Linked DNA regions of Homo sapiens: region 2 is linked to region 1. The links come from fine-mapping of genetic effects on gene expression. Tissue or cell type: fetal neocortex. Region 1 holds a variant in brackets; the other region holds the start of a gene. All regions are shown on one strand. Distances are from middle to middle.

The links. PIP is the estimated chance that this variant, and not a neighbour inherited with it, causes the effect.
Region 2: it holds the start of EDN3, and the variant in region 1 is fine-mapped to the expression of EDN3 in fetal neocortex (Walker 2019, PIP 0.95).

The regions. Positions count from the first base shown.
Region 1 is chr20:58,962,119-58,970,222 of GRCh38, forward strand. It overlaps LOC107985382 (a long non-coding RNA gene), which reads right to left and starts at 5,736. Exons shown (of 4, transcript XR_001754727.2): 1 at 5,657-5,736; 2 at 1-40. RefSeq lists an enhancer at 3,528-4,080. The variant C/A (reference allele first, on the strand shown) is at 4,492.
Region 2 is chr20:59,297,147-59,305,250 of GRCh38, forward strand. EDN3 (endothelin 3) reads left to right here and starts at 3,465. Exons shown (of 5, transcript NM_207034.3): 1 at 3,465-3,718; 2 at 4,264-4,576. The coding sequence starts at 3,667.

The DNA.
Region 1 (8,104 bases):
TGCCTGAAGCCATCTTCCCTGGTGTGTAGACAAAGTCCGCCTGCCATTAGAGAAGAGGATGCCAACTAAGAGCAAGAAACTGAAGCAATACAGGACGAGGCAGGTTCCTAATTTCTTGTTTGAGTTTCTGGACCTATTCATGCATGAAGCTGGGTCAGCCCACAGACTTCCCAGATACATTAGCCAATATTTGGTTTTCTACTTTTTTTTTTTTCTTTTTGAGACGGAGTCTCACTCTGTCACCTGGGCTGGAGTGCAGTGGCACCATCTCGGCTCACTGCCACCTCTGCCCTCCCGGGTTCATGCGATTCTCCTGCCTCAGCCTTCCCAGTAGCTGGGATTACAGGTGCACACCACCGCACCCTGCTAATTTTTTGTATTTTTAGTAGAGACGGGGTTTCACTATGTTGGCCAGACTGGTCTCGAACTCTTGACCTCATGATTCAACCGCCTCGGCCTCCCAAAGTGCTGGGATTACAGGCGTGGGCCACAGCTCCCAGCCCGTTTTCTACTTCTTATAGCTCAAAGAGCCTGAATGAATACATATGCACTGTGCAGTGCAAGCATGACTGTCTTAGGTCAGGTTCTCTCTAAAGCAGACCCTGAGATGACAATTCACGTGCAAATAATTATTTACTCCCAGGAGAAGTTGATTAGTGAAGTGAGGTGTCATATCTTGCAAAATCTCACTTCATCATGATCCTCTAGGTATCTCTAGAGCATAAATTACACTTCAGAGTTGGTCCTACGTTGAGGTTGGTTTTCATACTCCTGCATGTGTCAGTCATTGGCTAAGAACTCTGCCCCAAGGACATATAAACTTTCCAGCATCTCTGCTCTTGGGGAGTTCTTGGGAGGTGGCATCAGTAACCCAAGATAGACTGAAGATAGTCGCAAGTGCAAGCCCTTAGAAACACAGACCTCAGAAGCTGGGAGATGCATGTGCCAAGCTGGTCAGGGGTTCTCAGAGAACCTGGCTGGAGCACCACAGTGTCCACTACAGAAAGAAAAGCAAGGAAAGAGGCCAAACGGAGAGTCAGGAATTGCTGGGGGCTCCATGCGAACAAGTCTAAGAGATAAAAATGCCAGGGGGACCCAGTCGTCAGGGTGCCCCCCCCCAACCCCCCGCCGCCACTTCTGTGTTTGACCTCCAGGAGCGCTACTGGGTCCTCACAGTGAATGTCAGAGAAAAATCCCCTCAGGCTCCTGGCAGAGGGACGGGAAAAGGAATCATTTTGAAATATACCAGGGCATTCTGTTCTTTTTTACAAGGTCTGTCAACAGGAGAAACTAACCAGAGCCTAACCAGCTGGGCTTTTATCAGAACCTAACTGACCCAGGCCAAAAACAAAACAACAAAACAAAACAAAGCAAAAAAACTCAAAACCTAGGTGGCCCCAGCCTTCCACACGGGAGAAGGGAAATCACCAACTCCAGCCCACTCTGGCTGTTCTATCCCCCTAAGACGAGAGGGGGACTGAGAAGCACTTGTGAAACTCACAGTCTGAGAACACAGGCTCATTGAGAGACTGAGACCTAGTCATAGGACTACAGAATGCTTCTCCTCTCCCTACACCTTACCAACACATTACTAAAGGCCTATTTACAACAGTTCCATTTATCTAGTACATCATGTCCAGCAATCAAGAAAAAATTACAAGATATACTAAAAGGCAAAAAAACAAACAAACAAACAAAAAAAACACATGGTTTGAAGACACAGAGCAAGCATCGAAACCAGACTCATATGTGGTAAGGATGTCGGATGATCAGAACAGAAATCTAAAAGAACCATGATTAGTGTGCTAAGGCACCAATGGACACAGTATACATCATGCAAGAACAGATGGGCAATGTAAGCAGAGAGTTAGAAATTCTATGAAAGAATCAAAAAGAAATGCTAGAGATCAAAAACACTGTAACAGAAAAAAGGAATCCCTTTGATGGTCTTATTAGTAGACTGGACACAACTGAGGAAAGAATCTTTGAGCCTGAGGATATCTCAGTAAAAGCCTCCAAAAATGAGGCCAGGCGCAGTGGCTCACGCCTGTAATCCCAGCATTTTAGGAGGCCGAGGTGGGTGGATCATTTGAGGTCAGGAGTTCAAGATCAGCCTGACCAACATGATGAAACCCTATCTCTACTAAAAATACAAAATCAGCTGGGTGTGGTGGCGGGCGTCTGTAATACCAGCCACTCAAGAGGCTGAGGCAGAAGAATCTCTTGAACCTGGGAAGTGGAGGTTGCAGTGAGCCGAGATTGTGCCACTGCACTCCAGTCTGGGCAACAAGAGCGAAACTCCATCTCAAAAACAAACAAACAAACAAACCTCCAAAAATGAAAAGCAAATAGGAAAAAAGACTTAAAAAAAATAGAGCAAAATATCCAAGAACAATGAGGCAACTACAAAGGGGTAACAGATGCATAGTGTAATACCAGAAGAAGAAGGAAAGAAAGGAACAGAAGAAATATTGGAATAATAATGACTGAGAGTTTCTACAAATTCATGATCCAAACCACAGAGCCAAGAAACTCAGAGAACACCAAACAGGATAAATGCAAAAACAACAAAAACAACAACAACAAAAACCCACACCTAGACATACCATTTTCAAACTACAGAAAATCAAAGATAAAGAAAAAATCAGAAAGAAGTCTAAGGAAAAAAAATCCTGCCTCATAATTCTTACAAAGAATTACGTCCAGCTTCTCAGAAACCATGCAAGCAAAAAGAGAGTGGAGTGAAATATGTAAAATGTTGAGAGAAAAAAACTCTCCAACCTAGAATTCTGTACCCTGTGAAATTGTCCTTCAAAAGTCAAGGAGAAATGAAGAGTTTCTCAGACAAACATAAATTGAGGAAATTTGTTGCCAGTAGATCTGTCATGCAGAAAATGTTAAAAGAAGTTCTTTAGAGAAAAAGAAATTGGTATAGGTCAGACTCTTGGATCTGCATAGGGAAAAGAAGAGCATCAGAGAAGAAATTAGTCAATGTAAAGTAACAATTTCTATTTTTCTTATTCTTAGTTGATTTAAAAGATAGCACTTTCTTCAAAATAATAATACCAACAACTTACTTGGTTATATGTATGCTTCTATATATGCTAATGTATATATGCTTATATATGTGTGTGTGTGTATGCACAGACAGTGTCCCGAGTCCCTGGGTGCAGTCCTTCCAGAGGCCACCGTGACTCTGTCTGTCCTGCTCAGGGGAACTGGTTCATTTCCTCCCACCTGCCCTTTTGTTCTTTTTCACTCCAGGTCATAAGGTCCTGACCATTACGGGGACCCTCCTTTGCTCCAATCAGGTGTGGCCTGGGAGCTGGGTCACAGAAAGCAAGGCAGCATCTCTGGACAGGTCTCTTCAAGATATTGTGACCTGAAGGGAGGTTTGGGCAAGGCGGCCCCTGGCAGTTTCTGCACCTGGGCGCTGAGCACAGGGGGCCCCTGGGGAGGGACCACCCAGCTCCTGCCTTCCCTGAGAACTGCCTGTTCCCCCAGTTGAAGGAATGGTGTCAGCGTTCCATGCCTCAGTCTCACCTGGCCATGGCAGATTGGACTGGGGTGGATACCTGCCCCAAGCCTGGGCAATTACGTTCTCTTTCGCAGGTATTGAAACTGGGACCAGAGACTGTAGTTCAGAGATGCTGGTGGCTGCAGCAGAGAGGTGGTGCAGGGATGCAGCTGGGGAGTCTGACACCGCTTAGCTGCAGGGCTGTGGCTACAATGTGCTTGCTGAGAGACACAATACACAGTACTCAAGCTCGTCAATCAGAGCGCTGTAACAATGGTGAGTTCCTGGTAGCCATTTCGTGTCTTTGGTAGCCCTCTCTTGCCCCAAGGCCACATTTTCTTGATCCAGGAATAGACCCATCATCTAGGTTAGGTTATCAGAGTCTCTAACGCATGATACTGGACTCGAGGCTAGAATATTGCATGGGTTTTTGTTCGTTTGTTTTTAGAGACAGGGTCTTGCTCCATCACCCAGGCTGGAGTGCAGTGGCCCAATCATAGCTCCCTGCAGCCTCCAGCTCCTGGGATCAAGCGATCCTCCCACCTCTGCCTCCGCCTCTCAAGTACCTAAGACGATAGGTGCGAGCCACTGTGCTACTGGCTTTCAGTCTTCACCTGAATAACTTATTAAATGGTGGGGCTTGGATATAGGCACTGTTGATACTTTCTGCTATGTAAACTGAAATGCATGGGACATTCTGTTGAGAGAGGGAGACGGCAGCAGATGCAGAATGAGGAGAGTCCTGACAGCATTCCACAGCCTGTGGCTGTTTTCCCTGCCCACCTGTCTTTGTTTCCACATAAAGGGAATTTATGATAAATCCTCTATTTTCTTTCTTTTTTTTTTTTGATGGAGTCTCACTCGCACCCTGGCTGGAGTGCAGTGGTGCAATCTCGGCTCACTGCAAGCTCCACCTCCCGGGTTCATGCCATTCTCCTGCCTCAGCCTCCCAAGTAGCTGGGACTACGGGCGCC[C/A]GCCACCATGCCTGGCTAATTTTTTTGTATTTTTTTAGTAGAGATGGGGTTTCACCATGTTAGCCAGGATGGTCTCAATCTCTTGACCTCGTGATTTGCCTGCCTTGGCCTCCCAAAGTGCTGGGATTACAGGCGTGAGCCAAAATTGTCTATTTACTTAGGTTACTATCTAGTTTGTTTTTTTTTTAAAAAAAACAGAATCTTGCTCTGTCACCCAAGCTGGAGTGCAATGGCGTGATCTCAGCTCACTGCATCCTCTACCTCCCAGGTTCAAACGATTTTCCTGCCTCAGCCTCCCAAGTAGCTGGGATTACATGCACATGACACGACACCCAGCTAATTTTTTGTACTTTTAGTAGAGACAGGGTTTCATCATGTTGGCCATGCTGGTTTTGAACTCCCAACCTCAAGTGATCTGCCCGCTTCATCCTCCCAAAGTGCTGGGATTACAGGTGTGAGCCACCGCACCCGGCTTTTTTTTTTTTTTTTTTTTTTTTTTTTTTGAGACAGAGTTTTGCTGTCGCCCAGGCTGGAGTGCAGTGGTGCGATCTCGGCTCACTGCAACCTCTACCTCCCAGGTTCAAGCAGTTCTCCTGCCTCAACCTCCCAAGTAGCTGGGATTACTGATGCATGCCACCATGTCTGGCTAGTTTTTGTATTTTTAGTAGAGACTGGGTTTCAGCATGTTGGCCAAGCTGGTCTTGAACTCCTGACCTTGGGTAATCCACCTGCCTCAGCCTCCCAAAATGCTGGGATTACAGATGTGAGCCACCACGCCCAGCCTAGTTCTTGAATCCAAATTTCCTTACCAACCCAGCAAGGAAGCGATAAATTGAAAATTTCATTTAAAGGAGTCCCCAAGCCACTCAGTAGTATTTATCAACAGGATTAGGTAAATGTAACATAGTATGGAATTATTAATAATTAATTTCCTCCAATAAAGCTGAATATAAAGGTAAGAGACATTGAAATTATATTACGAAGAGTGAAATAACTGAAAATGACACAAGTGAGATTGTTCTAAAAGTTTCTTAGAATCTTAGGACACATTTGCTCACTCATTCAAGCTAGGTCAAGCAAAAAAAGGAATTAATTGGAAGGACAAAGGAATGGGACCTCATGGCAACAATGGTCAAAAATGCAGTTACTCATGAAGAATCAGTACCTAGTAAGTCAGAAGAGTGTACTGTGGTGTCTCTCAGGAACCACATGACCCCTCGGCCCTGCAGCTCAGCGGTGTCTGACTCCCCAGCTCCAGCCCTGCACCACCTCTCTGCTGCAGCCACCAACGTCTCTGAACTGCAGTCTTTGGTCCCAGTTTCAATACCTAGGAAAGAGAACTTAATTGCCCAGCCTTGGGGCAAGGGTCCACCCCAGTCCAATCTGCCATGGCCAGGTGAGATCAGGGCATGGAACGCTGACACAGAAGCTGGCACTGTCCCTTTAGAAAGCGTTGGGGGACAGGCCGTTCTCAGGGAAGGCAGGAGCTGGGTAGTCCTCCCTGAAGTGCCTCTGTACTCCGCACCCAGGTGCAGAAACCGTAAGGGGCCGCCTTGCTCAAACCTCCCTTCAGGGCACCCGTCCAGAGACACTGCCTTACTTTCTGCCTTACTTTCTGCCAGGTGATCCTGACTCCCAGGCCACTCCTGACTGGAGCAAAGGAGGGTCCCTGTAATGGTCAGGACCTTTTTCAATGGTGAGTCTTGAAATTCAAATGACCTGAAGTGAAAGAGAAAAAAGGGCAAGTGGGAGGCAATGAACCAGCACACCTCAGCAGGAAGGACAGAGTCATGGTGGCTTCTGGAAGGACTGGACCCAGGACCCAGGGACTCAGGACACTGTCTGACCCTCTGTCTTCTCCGCTCGTTTTTGCTTCTCCCTATGGAATGCCCTCATCCTCTCCGCCTGGGACCTCATATGCATCATGCCAGGAAGCACGGCAGGAGGCCCTTCAGATTGATGTTTGACCATCCCTACAATGAAGGCAAAAGCAGCCTTTCTCCAATTTGAGCTTGAAAAATCCTCCATGAGGACTCGTTAGGAAAATATACATATATATATATACACATATGTGACAAAAAATTAAAACAAACAAAAGTGGAAAAATTGTACTTTTAAAAAATGTTATGTACTCATCACTGGATTTCAACAATTATCAACAAACGGGCAATCATGTTTCATCTGTACATCCACCCTCCACTGGATTATTTTAAAGCAAATCCCAAATATTCTGTCACTTCCTCTGAAATACTTCTGACGTATCGTAAGGAGTTTTAAAAACTTAATCATAATGCCAATATCATGCTAAAAAATTAGCAAAAATGCCTTAATACCATCAGCATAGTCAACCAGTGTTCACATTTCTCTAGCTGTCTTAAAAATTGAAAAACTGGACCAGAGCAATTGGGCAAGAGAAAGAAGTAAAGGGGATCCAAATTGGAAGGGAAGAAGTCAAGTTAGCCTTGTTCACAAACAACATGATCTTATACCTAAAATAACCCAAAGATTTCACCAAAAAACCATTAGAACTGATAAACAAATTTGGTAAATTTGCAGGATACAAAATCAACATCCAAAAGTCAGTAGCACTTATATATGTCAATAGCGAACAATCTGTTAAAAAAAATCAAGAAAGCAATCGCATTTATAATAGCTACAAAGAATATTAAATACCTAGGAATCAATCTAACCAAAGAAGTGAAAGGTCTATACAAGGAAAACTATAAAACTCCAATGAAAAAAATAGAAAAGGACATACAAAAAAGTGAAAAGATATTCCATCCTCATGGATTGAAAGAATTAATAGTATTGAAATGACAATACTATCCAAAGCAATTTACAGATTCAATGCAATCGCTATCAGAAATACCAATGACATTCACAGAAATAGAAAAAAAAATCCTAAAATTTATATAGAACCACAAAAGACTCTGTATTGCCAAAGCAATCCTAAGCAAAAAGAACAAAGTTGGAGGCATCACACTACAAACTTCAAAATATATTACAAAGCTATAGTAACCCAAACAGCATGGCACTGGCATAAAAACAGACAAATATACCAATAGAACAGAATAGAGGACCCAGATATAAATCCACACATTCATATCCAATTCATCTTTGACAAAGGTACAAAGAACGTACAATGGAAAAAGGATAGTCTTTTCAACAAATGCTGCTGGAAAAACTGGATAAACTATATGCAGAAGAATGAAACTAAACCCCTATCACTCAGCATACACAAAAATCAAATCAAAATGGATTAAGATTTGAATGTAACACCTGAAATTATGAAACTACTAAAAGAGAACATTTGGAAAATGCTCCAAGACATTGGTCTCGGGCAAGCAAAGATTTTTTTGTGTAAGACCTCACAAGTACAAACAACAAAAGCAAGTGAAAATAGACAGATGGGATTACATCAAGCTAAACAGCAAAGGAAACAATCAACAAAATGAAGAGACAACTCACAGAATGGCAGGAAATATTTGCAAACTACCCATTTGACAAGGGATTCATAATCAGAATATATAAGAAGCTCAAACAACAGCAAAAACAAAACAAAACAAAATACAATCTGATTTTTAAATGGGCAAAAGATTGGAATAGACATTTC
Region 2 (8,104 bases), 340 kb after region 1:
CTTGGCCGAGCCCCAGCAGTGTCCTGATACATGACTTCTCCTAGGGGCACATTGGATGCTGAGGCAGTGAAGGAGGATCAAGGAATATTGGCAGACGTCTGCGGAGAAGAATGCCTATTCATTCGTGTCCTCTGTAGAGGTCATCATTCCTTTACATGACCTTCCATCAGAGATTATGGAATGGAAACTAGACAGATGGAGAGGCAGTGAGTTGTCAATGATACACAGAAGAAAATGGGAACCATTAAAACCTTGGGTATGAGTTCCAGAGGCAGCGCTGCTTAAGCATTATGAACTCTGTCCCTGGAATCATGTGGAGTCAAATTTGAATCCTGATAGACTGCCACTTAATAGATGCATGGTTGTAGGCTGGTTACTTTGACCTTTTCGAGCCTTAGTTTTTTAATCTGTGAGATGGGGATAATGTTAGCATAAATTTTGTTGAGTTGTCACAAGGGCAAAACAATGATGGAAACCACCAGCTTGCCATTGAGTTACATGAATTGTATATTTCCTTTGCACATTTCTTAGCCTGGAACCCAGAAGGCTTTGTGATCTTGCCAAGTCTCCAAGCCGGCTTTACAATGAATTACTTCATATTGTAATTGAGGTTACCTTTACTTGACTTAAGTGTATTAATTTAGAAAGGAATTTTATGTCAATCACTACCATGCACAGTAAGCCCGATTCCACAGCCTGACAAAGGCTCCAAGCCTATGGCCTGCTATCCCTTTGTACAAGCCTATGGCCTGCTACATTCCTTTTGTATCCCTTTGTTCAAAAATCCCTTTGTACAGCTCTCTCTCTGTTCGAGAGCTGTTAAAGACACATCGAGTCATTGCCCTGGCCATCGTCAGAAGCCAGAAGAACAGTAGGAAAGGGAGCTCTTTCGCTTGAGAGCTGGTGTTGGCGAGTGTCACTGCAGGCTGCTGCCTCAAATCATGGCGCCCGGCTTGCTTTAGGGACCAAGGACAATGCTGCCTCCTCTGATCATCCAGCTGAACACACTGTCTTCTTCTCTTAGCTCTGTGCGGCGTTTTATGTTCTCAGCATCCTGGATCCTTGGCGATCTATTTCTGAACTTCCTTACCTCAACTAGAGTAGAAGACCCAGAGGGCAGGGCCAGCTCCATCCTGGTATTTGGCTAGCACCTCCTGGTGCCTGAGAGGCTCATCCAGGGTTTGTTGATTTTTAGTCCCAGTGAAGACAAGTGGTGGTCGGCTTCAAGCTACTGAAGGCCATAGACCCAGAGAGTGGTCTAAGCAGCCATGATACCTCCTGTGTCTGAACATGGTACCCGGAAACCTCCTCCTACTCCTTTTCTCCTTTTAGCTGATTAGTATATTTTCTATTCCTCCAGCCATCCCCCAATCCAAGAACTTTTTATTTTGTTGAAGATGGAAATTTTAATTCCAAAGAGATAGTAATTATTATGGTCTGAATATTTGTCCTCTCCAGATTTATCTGTTGAAATCCTATCCATGAAGGTGATGATGTCAGGAGGTGGGGCCCTTGAGGGGTGATTAAGTCATGAGGGTTGCAGCCCTCATGAATGGGGTTGGTGTCCTTAGAAAAGAGACCCCCAGAGAGCTGCCTTGACCCTTCCACAACTGAGGATGCAGTGAGAAGTCACCATCCATGATCAGAAATCGAGCCCTTATTAAACACCGAATCTACCAGCACCTTGATCTTGGTTTTCCAGACCCCAAAAATGTGAAAAATAAAACTCTGCGGTTTATCAGCCACCCAGCTTATGGCGTTTTGTTATAGTAGCCCCAACAAACAAAGATAATACTAAAATGATCCAAATTCTAGCCCAGCAGGAACAGAAGATATTGTGAGTCTTGGGTTTTTCTTATTTTCAAAGCATCAAGTGCAAAAACAAACAAATAAACACTTGGATTCAAGGGCTAGGCAGGATGGGATGGGAGTGGGGGGATGGAGAACTTCAGCATCAGCTTCAGTGCTGGAAGCTTGAGTGCTACTCTAGTTACTGCAGCTCTGTACCAATTTACCCAGAGTTTAGTGCTGTAAAACAACCATTTATTATGCTCATGGATTGTGTGGGTGGGAAGTTCGGACAGGGTACAGCGGGACAGCTATTCCTCAGTTGGAAGTCTTGAGGGCTGGGAGCTCAAATCATCGGAAGGCACATTCACTCAGGTCAGTGGCTGACACTGGTGGTCGGCTGGGAGGCCTCGGTTTCTCTCCACGTAGGTTTCTCCAGGTGATCTCTCCAGGTGGGCTTGTTAGGGCTTCCTCCTGGTACAGCAGCTGTGTTCAGAGGACAGGTGTCCTGAGCTATCAAGCCAGGGGGATGTTGTAGCACTCTTTTGGACTGTCCTCAGAAACTGCTCTGGTCACTTCAGCTGCTTTCTAGTTTTCAGAAGCTGGTCGTTAAGGCTAGTAGAGGGCAGGACCCAATTCAACCCCATTTTTTAGAGATGAGGTCTCGCTATGTTGCCCAGGCTGGTCTTGAACTCCCAGGCTCAAGCAATCCATCCACCTTGGCCTCTCAAAGAGCTGGAATTACAGATGTGAAGCACTGCCCCTCCCCCAACCCCATCTGTTATGAAAGGAGGGTCCTTTGACCACAAGTGCCCTGAGAAGTCAGGAGGACTTCCCAGTCTCAGACATTTTTATCTGAGCTGGAGATGGGGACAGCCTCCCACACACAGGACTTGGAAGGCTATGAAGGAAGTAGGGGGCTCTCTTGGGAGGTCATTTCCCTTGGTAGGGACGGTTGTGTGAATGAACTTGGCCTTTAGGGAGAGGAGCCCGACTCTCACCTGAAGCCACCCAACCTGTGCAGATGGCTGAGGAAGCCCTGGACACCACAGGACCGCTAACCCAGGATCTTTGTTGACTTTGCTCCCAGGCCACTGCCCCACACGCAGGCTCTGAACTCCTGGGAGAGGTAGGGAGCCAGCCCGAGGCGTGAGTCAAGAGTGTAAAGTACACCGAGTTCCTTGGCAAGCAGGCTCTTCAAGGGGAAGGTGTCACTCGGGGAACAATGAGAAATGTGTCTTTCCCTCAGCCCCTGATAGAAAAGATAACACCCCTTGAGCACAGCCTTTTCTCATCTGTTCTTGCTCTTGGATGGGGGGCTGCTACTCCGGAGCGGCGAACTGGCGGGCGGGGGTGCGCCTGTGAGTGTGAGCGCGCGTGTGCGTGTGTGCGCGCGCTCTCGTGGCCTTCCGGCAGCTGGCAGCTGTCCCGGCCCCCACCCCACCCTACCCCACCCCACCCAGCCGCGCCACGCCACGCCGCCCCCGCCCCTCGCTGTCCTGGGTGCGCCTCGGGCCGCTGCGCTCCTGGCCAGCTCCCCCCAGCGCCTGGGAGGCGACCCCCAGTGCGCCCGGGTTCAAAGGCCCGGCGAGGCAGTTCCAGCCCCTCTGGGGGGCGGGGAGGCGACGGGGGTGGTGCAGAAGCCAGAAAAGCCCGAGCCACAGCCGGCCAGCTCCGCGCAGGGATGGGCAGCGCGCTCTGAAAGTTTATGACCGCCGCAGCCAACTCCTGGCCGGAGCTGGAGACGCAGCGAGCGATCGGCCGGCCTCGAACCCCCACAGCTGGAGGGCGAGGCCAGCTGTACCCGGCCCCAGTGCCCTTTCGCGGCCACAAGCGGCCGTCCTCCTGGTCCGGTGCTCCGGCGCCTGATCTAGGTTCATGGAGCCGGGGCTGTGGCTCCTTTTCGGGCTCACAGTGACCTCCGCCGCAGGTAAGCGCACGGGGCGGCGCGCCTCTCCTGGCGCGAGCGCACACAAAAGGACCCAGGGCGGGGGACCCGAGGCGCGGAGAAGATGTGCGTCGCGGGGAGCAAACTCTTGCCTGGGCTCTGCACTCGTGAAGACGCCTGGGGGAGGGCTGGGGAGCAGAAGCGGCGCGCAACGACTACCCGCACGGGCTCCGGGAGTTGCAGCCCGCGCACTGGCTGGAGACCTGCTGCCTGGGCCGACTTGGTCAATTTTTCATGAAACTGGGGACTTTTCAGAAAGTTTGCGAACTATTCAGAGGCTGTGCCAAACCCTGGCAAAGTTTGCAGAAAGTATGCAAAATGCATGCAAGTTTTCAACGGGTGCAGATAGCTTGCAAGCTTTTCACAGAGTGTGCAGATAGCTTGGAAACTTTTCAGAAACTGCGCAGAGCTTTGGAAACTTTGCAGACATTTTGCTTGCTCCACCCCCCTCCTCAGGTGTTTGGGGGTGGCGGGTGTTGAGGGGTCTGCACACTCAGCTTAGGAGCCCCTCAATCTGCCTTCTGCAGGATTCGTGCCTTGCTCCCAGTCTGGGGATGCTGGCAGGCGCGGCGTGTCCCAGGCCCCCACTGCAGCCAGATCTGAGGGGGACTGTGAAGAGACTGTGGCTGGCCCTGGCGAGGAGACTGTGGCTGGCCCTGGCGAGGGGACTGTGGCCCCGACAGCACTGCAGGGTCCAAGCCCTGGAAGCCCTGGGCAGGAGCAGGCGGCCGAGGGGGCCCCTGAGCACCACCGATCCAGGCGCTGCACGTGCTTCACCTACAAGGACAAGGAGTGTGTCTACTATTGCCACCTGGACATCATTTGGATCAACACTCCCGAGTAAGTCAGCCTTTTGTGGTGAGGAACGTGGCTCCCGGACCAGGCCCACATCTGCTCATTCCCAGGAGGACCTCACTCCACCCCAGCCCCGCTCAGTTAGCCCAGAGCCTGCCCTGGCACAGCCTTTAGCTCTTGCTGGGGCCTCTTGCCAGCCCAGGTCTCTTCTGCAGGTCAGGGGTGTGACCCACATCCCCCCTGAGGGCCTGGCCCAAGAGAAACTCAATCCTGAGTTTGATCCTGTGGAAGGAGGAGCCCTCCCTCTGAATGAAGTGAACTGACCAGGGGGATTAGATACCTGAGATGTCTCTCTGAGCCTCTTTTCTGAGATAGAGAAAGCCCCGAAAGTTTATCTCATTCCCCAGGGGCCAAGGGGGCTCATACTCACTGTTGACCCCACCAGGATCCAAGGGGTTTAAAATTCCTTGAAAGCATCCTGGTCTCCAGGGAGTCTAAGGGTGGGTTTAGCTGAGCCTGACAGAACCTGCACAGTCCACTCGGGGTAGAATTCCCCTGGGATGGGCTCCCTTCCTTCCTGTGGGCCCCCCTGGATGCCAAGGCAGGGTGAATTCACATCAGCTCGTCCTTGGGCCTTCCACAGGCTGGCTCCAGTCACCCACTGCCATGGTCACAGAGGGCCTTCCCTTCTCTCCTGCAGTCCTTAGAAACTCTCTTACCCTAGGGCCTAGACAGCACCATCCTGAATTTGTCTTGGGGTTCGTCCAGTGGGGAAGTCAGCCTTCTCCTGGGGCCATGTGGAGAGAGTGTGGCTCTGACAGGGGGAGGCTTTGATGACTCCCAGTGTTCAGGGAACCCCTCCTGCAGGCACATCATCTTGCAGGCCATACAGAGGGCTTGACCTTGCCTGGGTCACCAACTCTCTGGCATTGGCTTCCCCATCTCTAAGATCTGGGACTTGGATCAGACACCTCTAAGTTCTGTTCCCTGGGTGTTCATGGGATCTCTTGGGACTCTTGCTTGTACCCTATTAGGGATTCTTAGCTGAGAACTCAGAGATGGTTGTGAATGCAAGCCCCTGGAAGCCTGGAAAGGCACCTTTGCCACCGTGTCCCGGAGCCGTCTTGATTCAGGTTCCTCACGGTCACCTTTATCCCCAAGCCCCATAACCTCTGAGCCCTTGGTAGCAGCTTTCATGGGGCTCACTTACCTACCTTGTGTCATCGGCACCTCAAAAATGAAGTGCAGACGAGGGTAGTAAACCTGAGGGGTGGAATGTCTTTCAGACCAGGGGACAAGACCTCTAATCACATCCATGATAGATCTGGAACATCACCCCACCATGCTTGAAGGGCAGGCAGGGGCTTCACATTGAGCCAGCAGGACACGTGCACAAAGTCCTGCACTCAGAAAGACTCTGGCTCGGCTTAAAGTCCTGCTGTCACTGTCTTGAAATCCTTAATACTTTCTGAACAAAGAGCTGCACATTTGCATTTTCTCCTGGGTCCCATAAATTCTGTAGCTGGTCGTGATACCCTGATTTGCTGGCTGGGCTGTGTCCACCTAGAGGATGGGAGGTGCCTCCCTGTTTCTTTCCCTTTGTGGGGAAGATAGAAGCTGTGAGTGTTGGGCCATCATCAATTGCCTCTTATCCTCAGATAGCGAGGGGAGTCACCTTTCCTTGTAGCCCCTGCACCTTGGCACTGCCCTTTCTGATTCTTATCCTGCATCATTGTGCTCTGATCAAATTCACTTCATAGAATGGAGGGCACTGGGCAGTCACCAGGAACCGAGTTCTTGTCTTGGCCAGAATCCCCAGCTGTGAATCTAGAAGGAGAAAGAAGAAAGCTAATGGAATTACAGACAGGAACCTGGGGTGGTGGGCAGGTGGGAGAGGATTTGGAAACCATCTCTTTCATTCGTTGCCTGTTTACCAAACCCCGGAGCACTGGCTGGGGAGGAAGTGATGACTTGAGACATGTCTGAGAGTCTCAACCAACACCCTGTGATCTGTTTAAAATTCTGTCTCATGCATCCTGCGATCTGTTTGAAGTCCTGTCTCATGATTTCGAGTTTGTCCTGAAATGAAGCTGTGGCTCTCTGACTTTTTCCAGGACAGCCAACTTGATAACTTTCCCCCTGAAGTGTGATTTACCTCTTCCCTTCCTTCCCGACACTGGTTCAATTTAAACATGATGAAAGAAGGATTAAATCTGGTGTTTGGGCATCCCCTGAGCTACTTGGGAAACAAAAACGACAATAGCCAGACTTGAGCATTTTGAAATTAGACAGGTAAAATAATTTTTATGAGGCAGAACTTCCCAAATGGCCTCCTTCCCTCCCTTCCTGCCTCCCTCCTTTCTTTCTTACCCTCCAAACTTCCTCCTGCCCTCCCTCCCTCTCCCCCTCCCTTCTTTCCCTCTTTCCTTTCCCTTCTTTTCCCTCCCTCCTTCCCTTCCTTCCTGAAACTCTGTAGATGTGTAGATAGGTCTGTTGTCATCTTTAAAATATCTCAGGCAAGACTGCAATTTGAGAAAATGGGCTGTGGTGACAGGGAACAGGAGTGATGGGGAGGAATCTAAAAAATCACTGAATTGAGCAAAAGAGGCACTGGAAGTGAGGGACACAGTCTTTTCTAGTGGTTCTGTCTCCCCATTAGATCACAACCCCACCTGTCACATGTTCCCCTCTCCTGCTGTCACGCCCTCTTCATTCATGGACTGGTCTCCCTCTCCAAACTTCTCCACCAGGTGTGATTTCTCCCTGTCCCAGCGGCAGCTGTTCTGGGCACGAGAAGGAGCCTTGATTCTTGTGCCTCAGTCAGGGGTCTTGAACTTTGGGTGCTTTTCACCTTTCAGAGCCTTTCCTCCCATGGCGCATCCAGCTGCGTGAAGACAGAATCAACACTCCTAGTTGATCTTTGATGGAAATTGCTCTGAGTACGGTCATTTTTGCTCCCTTCGAGGATCTGAGATGCTGCAGGAGTCATATTGGGAGTTACTACCGAGACCCGCTTTGCATCTCCTCAAGGGAAGTTAACTGTCTAGTTCAGGCTCAAGAGACTAGTTGGTCTCTTAAGTCTCTTTTGGAAAGAAGGTCTGAGATTCCTCGGCTGTCCCTTTAGCCCTCCTGCTTTTTTCCCCTCCTTAGTCCTTCCAGACCCGAGCTTGGTCGGCCCTTTCTGTTAGCACCCAGCATGGCATGGATGCTCAGGAAATGCTGGTTGACTTTTGGCTAAGTCCTGCCACCTGGGTACTCTGGCTCATCTTTGCTGTTGCTGAGCCCCTAAATCTCCAGTGCCTTCTCCCACACAGGAGGCCTCTTTCTCCAGGTGCCTGGCTGCTCTTCAGGGGCCTGCACATCCCTGTAGACAGGGGTGGGCAAGAGAGTTTTTCTTGGGGATGTTGCCCATAACTTCTGTGATATCTTCCCAAAAGTCCATCGCCCCAAAGAGGAACCAAATTTATACTTACCCTGTCAAGGCTGCTGGGATCACAGTTCATCAATGGGATAGCATGATTTCCATTAGCCTTTCCTTGGCTGTCCCCCACAGTCCCCAAGCCATCCCACCAC